2 linked regions of the Homo sapiens genome follow. The protein of the gene in region 1 purifies or fractionates together with the protein of each later gene. This does not show direct contact. Each region holds a gene or a part of one and is shown on either strand. Other genes may lie near its edges.

Region 1 (3,815 bases):
GTGCCTGAGTGCCATGTGGCCTTACTATGCTACCCTGGGGGAAACGGAGAGAGAACTGCCGAGCCCACACAGGGCAGGAGCACTGTCCCTCTCCATGGTGGAAGACGCAGGCTCTAGCGGTCCAATGCCTCGCCCAGGTCCAACAGCCGGGCGGCCCAGGGAAAGCACTGATGCTGCTCATGCCCTCCCCACGCCCTTCAACATGGGGCTGCCCAGACCCCACAGCACCCTCGAGGGCCAGGGCAGCTAAAGCTCTGACCAGGGAAGGGTGTTCTCTGCCCTCCCACACATCCTGGGGGCCCAGAAAGGCAAGGATTTGGAGCCCCAATAGCGGCCAGAGGACAAAATGCTCACACATCCAAGCAGCCTGCCCTCCCACCCTTTACAACACCCGCAACCCGTGGCCTCCGTGGTCTCCTCCAGCACACAGGCTGGAAAACAGGAGGAACCAGGGGAGGTCACCTCCCCTCCTAAACCTGCCTCCAGCCCTGTGAACAGGGGCGGGGGTGACAATTCAGTGGCTCAGTGAGAGGATCCAGGTGGGAACCCAGTGAACACAGGGCCTCCCAAAGGAGGAGTGAGGGGCTCTCTCCGCAAACAAAGGGCCCCTGGCCACCCCAACACATAAACACACACACACACACACACACAGCCAACTACACACACAGGAACCAGAAATACTTCTTTATTCAAGCCCAAACGTGCAGCAGCCGCCTCCCAACCACAGCAGGCTCCTCCTTCCCTCCAGCCCCAGTTTCACCCCGCACAACCCATGTTCTCCCCACAACGCTCCTCAGATAGGGCACTCCCCCAGCAGGGGTACAGCTTGGCTCCGGGACCTCGGTCCCGCCGAGGCTGGCTTCAGTTTCTGAATTTGCCCACCAGTGGCTTCGAGGGCCAAGCCCCCAGGCCCTGCTGGTCCAGGAGGAGAGACAGCTGCCTGCGAGCCTCCTGGTAGGGCCCAGCCTAGGGCGGGAGATGAGAGGTGGGGTGAGAGGAGGTACCTGCAGGGGGCAGGGACTGCAGGGCTGGAGAGGGACCGGGACGGGGGGAGGGTGGGGAACCAACCTTGGCAGCCTCGTAGGTCTTCAAGGCCAGGAGGTAGGGCTTCCCCACAGCCCTGGCCGCCTGGTGAAAGGCCCGGAGAAAGGAGGCCTTGCAGAGACGGGAGGGAGGCCCCAGGGCGGCACTGGATGAAGAGAGGATACCACTGAGATCAGAGAGATACAAGCTGGACCAGCAGGCCTGCTACACACCTCACACTACCTCCTCTCACACTGTGACAATGTCACAGGACTCACAGGGCAGACAGAGGTGTGGCCACCACTACGGAGCTAGGAAGGGGTTGAGCGAAGGGGTTGAGCGAAGGGGTTGCGCTGGGATTAGACTGAGGTGAGGAAGCTCATGCATGAGCCCTCCATCACCAGCACTGCTCCACAGCCCGGCCCCAGGGGGCCCTTCTCACTTGGCCTTCACACGCCCGGTGGCCACATCCACAACCTCGATGCCAGGGTCCCCCAGGCTCCAGTTGAGGCTCAGGCCACGGCAGGTGTCAGGGGTGGGTTCGGAAGGGGCCACCGGGGGCCCTGCAAACAGGTGCAGGGCGGTCCGGACGTAGGGAGGTGGCAGGCATGGCCCCAGGACACTGTCCAGGCAGGGCCGGGTGTGGATGGCCCTGCTCAGAGTCGGAGGGTCGTGGCATGAGTCAGCTGCAGGGCAGAAGGGACAGGACAAGGTGAGTGACCTCCCTGCCCTCCCTTCTCACCCCCCCAGCCCTCACCACGTGCTCACCCAGGATGAGGCTGGTGCTGTAGAGTGGGGACACCAGGTGGGCCAGCAGGGCACCACCCAGCCCCAGCACGGCCCAGCGTGCCAGCTTGTCACTGGCTGACAGGCAGCCCACGTGGGTGTCACAGAGCGAGGGCGCCACGTAGCACACAGGCTTCAGCTGCCCGAGCACATGGGCCTGCAGGCGCATGGGTGGGCTGTGCGGGAGGCCACCTTCCGAGGTGGGGGGCAGGCTGCGGGCCGGGTGGGGACAGACATCAGCTTCAGGGCTGCTCTTCTGACCCTGGCCCCCACCCAGCAGCCCAACCGAGGGAGCCCCATCCCCCGCCTGCCCCGGGGGCCCTGCATACTAGATGTCACGGGCCGCGCCCTTGGGGGTGTTGCTGATGTAGAGGTGCAGGAAGACGCGGGGCTTGAGGGTGAATGGGGGTCCGGGCCCTGGCTGGGGGGCCAGCACGGACTGCTCCTTGCCCTTGGGGCCCCCCTGTGTGGCCAGCAGGAGCTGCCGGAACAAGAACCTAGGAGCGACAGGCACAGGGTGGTTGGGAAGACCTTGTCCTGGCGAAGGCTGCTATCAGGCGCCCACCCCACTGCCCCTCACCTCAGCAGGGCCCTGCGGGCGATGACCAGGCCATGGCAGTCGTGGAGCTGCTGGCCCGAGAACTCCAGCCAGCCAGCACAGCAGCTGCTGCCGGTGCCCAGAGCCACCAGCTTGTAGATCTCCTTCACGTGGCCCCTGGCACGCGGGATCTCTGTGCAGGAGGGGGCAGAGACGGCCCAGCCTAAGGCAAGGAGCTTGAGGGGGCCCTTCCCAGGGGGCCGGGGCCAGGGCCAGGGCTGGGGCGATCCCTACCCCTCTCCAGGATGACTCCAGCCACAGTCCCCTTACAGGCCCAGTATGGCGAGCGCTCGTCCAACAGGAGGTCAAAGCCGGCGCTCACCAACGCTGCGCAGCGCTGCTCATGGGTCAGGATGTTCTCTGCGCCAGGGCGAGAGACTGCAGGTAGAAGGGGGCCCACGCCTCTCCCCTCGACACTACAAGCCTGGGTCCGGGAATGCTCACCTACCTACGCTCAGGGGGGCCAGTGGAGGCCGGCTGGAGGTCTGGGGGGACTCTGAAAGAGGCAAGGAGGGCGGGCTGGTGTGGGTGCCAAGGCCCACCCTCCGTCCCTCAGGAAGCCAAGGAGGCGGGGAGAGGAAGTTTTCATCTTCCAGACACAGGACATTACACGAGCTGCTCTTCTAGCGGTCCCTACCCCCGGTGTCCCCAGAGGACGTGAAAGCAGGGACCGGCACATGTACCCCGCCCCAGCTCCCTGCAGGTGACGTCCTGATGCTCAGATGGTTTGTACAGCAACCCACCTCCTGCTCACACGCACAGCCACTTCCGCCTCCCCACGGGACTGCCAGCCTCAGTCCTCTTGTCCCCAGCTGCGGCTCAGCTGCCTGGCCCTCCCTCCATTACCTGGGTTCTCCAGCTGACTCCGGATGTAGCAGAGGGCAGAGAGCGCTGCCTGCTGTTTGGCCTCCGTCTTGCTATTCGCAGTGCCCGCAGGGCAGACCACCCCATCCAGTTCCGCGCTCACCGAGAAGGGGAAGCAGGGACCTGGGGAAGGAGCCAGGTGAGGAAGCAGCCCCCTGGCCTTCGCCCTGTGACAGGTACCACCTCTGCCTCCTCCTGACACCTGATATCGAGGACGGTCAGAATAATGAGACCCTCACCACCCTTCCCTTCCTCCAGCAGGCTCCATCGCCACCCCATGCCGCGCACACCCTTGAGTGCCTCTGCAGGCTGTGACCCATCGCTGATTCAACCAAGTCCTCACCCAACTCCTCCACAGCAGGGATGCGTGACTCCATTTCACAGATGAGCAGAAACGGCAGGCGGTTTGCCCAACTTGAGTCAGGACCCAAATCCAGGTCCCCTCTCCAGAGCCCACGCCACCCTGTTCTCAGGAGGAAGGCTCTGAGCACTTCCACCTGCCACAGACACATTGCTTTCAATTCCTCTCCTCCAGGGGCTCTAT
Region 2 (3,805 bases), on another chromosome or scaffold:
GGCAGTTAGTGGCAACCTGGACTGTTAAAGAAATGTCTCTCCATAAGCAGCTGCTGATAGCTAAGGACCTCTAGTGATTTTTGGTGACATTTGCTGAATATTATGACAATAGAAATGATTGACTTTTAGCACAAAGTGATCCATTTAATAATGATATTTTGTATGCCGTGATGATTTTAAAAGCCATGTTCCCTTTAAATGCTACATTTTAGAAATATGGTCATTTAATTATTTAGTTTTAAGAGGGTAGATTAAAGACATATCTTGGAAATCATCTAAAATGACCAGGAACACAAGAAATAGAAACATAAATCTCCAGTTTTGATGAAATGAGAAGGCATATATTTTTATACACACTTGCACACAAACGCACCCTAAATATATTAAGGTAGAAAATGAAGACGAGTTAGGAAGGCTGATGTGACAGAGTAGAGGACACTTAAATCTGCGCATCTACGAAGAAGAGTTTTGATGAGAATTAGTCGTAAGAACAACAATAAGAAAGAACGATCTCGCCCTTTTGAGCACTCACTATTGTCAAGGTCTTCTGGAACTCAGGCACTGGGGGCCTGGGTTTCAAGCAAGGGCAGGGCATTGTTGAAAATGGGAATTTGGCTGGGCACAGTGGCTCATGCCTGTAATCCCAGCACTTTGGGAGGCCGAGGCGGATGGATCACCTGAGGTCAGGAGTTTGAGACCAGCCTGGCCAATATGGTGAAACCCCGTCTCTACTAAAAATACAAAAATTAGCTGGGCGTGGTGACTCAGCATGTCTGTAAACCCAGCTACTCGAGAGGCTGAGGCAGGAGAATCACTTCATCCCGGGAGACAGAGGTTGCAATGAGCTGAGATTGCGCCACTGCACTCCAGCCTGGGCGACAGAGCGAGACTCTGTCTCAAAAAAAATGAAAGAAAATGGGGATATGTGGAAAATATCCACTAGAAGTTATAGTTCCCAAGGCCTGACCACAGGGTTTTCTGTAGAGTGATCAGATCTCAGGCTCACTTTTTGACTGCTAGGGAAAATGTATGTGTGGAAGTCTCTTTTTGGGGGTATCTGTCAGTTTTCCAGGGAAGACTTCACCAGCCTTCTGCAGGGCTGGTGGGGTGCGCATACTCCTCTGCTGGTGTCTGAGAACCAGTGTGGGGAGAGGGACAGGGTCACCCAGGTGAGTAGGAATACTTCACCTGCTTCCTGATTTTAGCCTCATGCCTCCACTTGGCCTCTGCTACGTCTGGTCCCTGACTCCTCAGCCTTTATGGGTAAAGTCTCTAGAATAAACTGCCACTCTCTGGTGAAGAGTGGCTTTGGGAGATATGATCTCTTGGGTGGGTGGGTAGGTGCTGGGAGCGGACCCAGGACCCCAACAGCCTGTTCAAACTTGCAGCCCTGCTTCTAGCTCCATGCCTTACCCCAGCCTCCCGTGGTCCCTCATGCCTGCGCATGCCAATGGGACATATAGCTTGCTTCCCCTCTGGCCCCTCCTTTGTGACTATTTCACTTCCTGCCTTTCCAAAAGTTGTTGAAATCTCATCTGCTGCTTGCTCCCTTCCCATTCTCCCATAAAAGCAATTTATGCCTTTCATAGTCTTCACTGTTGTTTTCATAGGGTTTGGGGAACGAAGCCGAGTGCGTGTGGTCAGTGCCCTGGGCTTATCTGGAATTCAGCTAGTCCTGTTGGCCCTCACTGGAGCCCTTTTGGGGTGGCTGTGCTGCCCTCCTGTGTGATCAGGGGCCTCCTCTTTCTGCTTGGTCCTTCTTGCTGCTGCTGCTGCCCCGCTGCTTCTGCAGAACCAGCTGTCTGGAGTTGGCTACTTATTGACCCATTCTTCAGGAAAGGCTCCTTCAGTTCTCAGCCTGTCTTATTTCCAGGGCATGTGGCCTGCCCAGGAGGTTTAAGAAAATCCACCCTCGGCCAGGCGCGGTCCTCATGCCTGTAATCCCAGCACTTTGGGAGGCCAAGGTGGGTGGATCACGAGGTCAGGAGTTCAAGACCAGCTGGGGCAAGATGGTGAAACCCTGTCTCTACTAAAAATACAAAAAAATTAGCCAGGCGTGGTGGCAGGCACCTGTAATCCTAGCTACTCGGGAGACTGAGGCAGAGAGAATTGCCTGAACCCAGGAGTTGGAGGTTGCAGTGAGCTGAGATTGCACCACTGCATTCGAGCCTGGGCAACAGAGCAAGACTCTGTCTCAAAAAAAAAAAAAAAAAAAAAAAGAAGAAGAAAATCCACTGTCTTTACCTGAGGCCTTAAGCTTGGTGAAAATTCTAGGTCTAAGGGGTGCCCTCAGATACCACCATTCCAGAGCAGCTGAGAACTCCAAATGGAGGGTCCCATGCTTATTCAGGGCCTGTCCTGGCCTCTGCAAGTTAGCAGGTTTTGTGTGTATCCAGGATCTCTACTTATTTCTTGGAGACCAAGCTACTTCCTTGGTCCTAGTTTATTTCTCTCTCTCTTTTTTTTTTGAGATGAAGTCTCGCCCTGTTGCCCAGGCTGCAGTGCAACGGCACGATCTTGGCTTACTGCAACCTCCACCTCCTGGGTTCAAATGATTCTCCTGCCTCAGCCTCCTGTTATTTCTCTTCTAATCGAGTCTAATCAACAATTAGCAGAAAGTCCTTGAAGTTTCCACTATCTGGCATGTGGTTGCCCTTCCTAGTAACTAGTGCTGATGCATGGTGGCACTTCTGTTTAACTGCATTGTCGGAGGAAGTGGGGTGACAGACACCTGCTGATATGGTTTGGATCTGTGTCTCCACCTAAATCTCATGTCCAGTTGTAATCCCCAGGGTTGGAGGTGGGGCCTGGTGGGAGGTGATTGGATCATGGGAGTGGATCCTTTATTAATGGTTTAGCACCATCCTCTCTGTGCCATTCTCATGATAGTGAGTGAGTTATCATGAGACCTAGTTGTTTAAAAGTGTGTAACACCTCCCCGCTCTCTTCCTTCTTCTCTGGCCATGTGAAGTGCCGGCTCCCTGTTTGCCTTCTGCCGTGATTGTAAGTTTCCTGAGGCCTCCCCAGAAGCAGAAGCTGCTATGCTTCCTGTATAGCCTGCAGAACCATGAACCAATTAAACCTCTTTTATTTATAAATTACCCAGTCTCGGTTTTTTTTTTTTTTTTTTTTTTTTGACAGAGTCTCGCTCTGTCACCCAGGCTGGAGTACAGTGGCACAATCTCAGCTTACTGCCACCTCCGCCTCCTAGGTTCAAGTGATTCTTGTGCCTCAGCCTCGTGAGTAGCTGGGACTACAAGCATGTGACTACACCTGGTAATTTCTATATTTTTAGTACAGATGGGGTTTCCCTATATTGGCCATGCTAGAGGTATTTCTTTATAGCAATGTGAGAACAGACTAATATACCTGCTCTCAAACTTACATTTTTCTTTTCGTTCCATTTTAAAAACCAGTTTTATTGAGGTACTATTTATATACAATATATTTATCAATTTTAAGTGTATAATGCAGTAAGTTTTGACAAATACATCCAGTCCTGTAACTGCCATCATAGTTACGACATAGAATATTTTCATCACCCCTGAACAATTTCCTCTTGTCCTTTTGTAGTCAAGTTTTTGCTGTAACCCCTGACTTCTGGCAGCCACTGATCTGATCTCTGTCATAGTTTTCCCATTTTCCTTAATTCAGATTATTATCAAGGGCCTGCTACTTTTTGAATTGAACTAAATAAGAAATGTACCCATCATAAGCAAAGTAGAAAAATCTAGATATAAAGTAACTCACTGATTGACTTCTTCAAGGGCCAGTGTGGCTTCTTCAGAGCTAATGAGAGCTAGCT

The links.
Region 2: the proteins of ADAD2 (region 1) and CRTAP purify together in Homo sapiens (affinity purification with mass spectrometry; one large-scale study listed by BioGRID and IntAct). This does not show direct contact.

The regions. Positions count from the first base shown.
Region 1 is NC_000016.10:84,194,021-84,197,835, reverse strand, and holds the end of ADAD2 (adenosine deaminase domain-containing protein 2), read right to left. Parts: coding exon of another isoform or gene 3,615-3,815; exon of another isoform or gene 3,530-3,614; intron 3,448-3,529; exon of another isoform or gene 3,395-3,447; coding exon 3,254-3,394; exon of another isoform or gene 3,111-3,253; intron 2,904-3,110; coding exon 2,856-2,903; intron 2,792-2,855; exon of another isoform or gene 2,768-2,791; coding exon 2,642-2,767; intron 2,576-2,641; exon of another isoform or gene 2,571-2,575; coding exon of another isoform or gene 2,541-2,570; coding exon 2,390-2,540; intron 2,307-2,389; coding exon 2,139-2,306; intron 2,022-2,138; coding exon 1,792-2,021; intron 1,710-1,791; coding exon 1,466-1,709; intron 1,190-1,465; coding exon 1,069-1,189; intron 967-1,068; coding exon 862-966; 3' UTR 670-861; downstream 1-669.
Region 2 is NC_000003.12:33,120,514-33,124,318, forward strand, and holds part of CRTAP (cartilage-associated protein isoform 1 precursor), read left to right. Parts: intron 1-3,805. UniProt on the Homo sapiens protein: Necessary for efficient 3-hydroxylation of fibrillar collagen prolyl residues.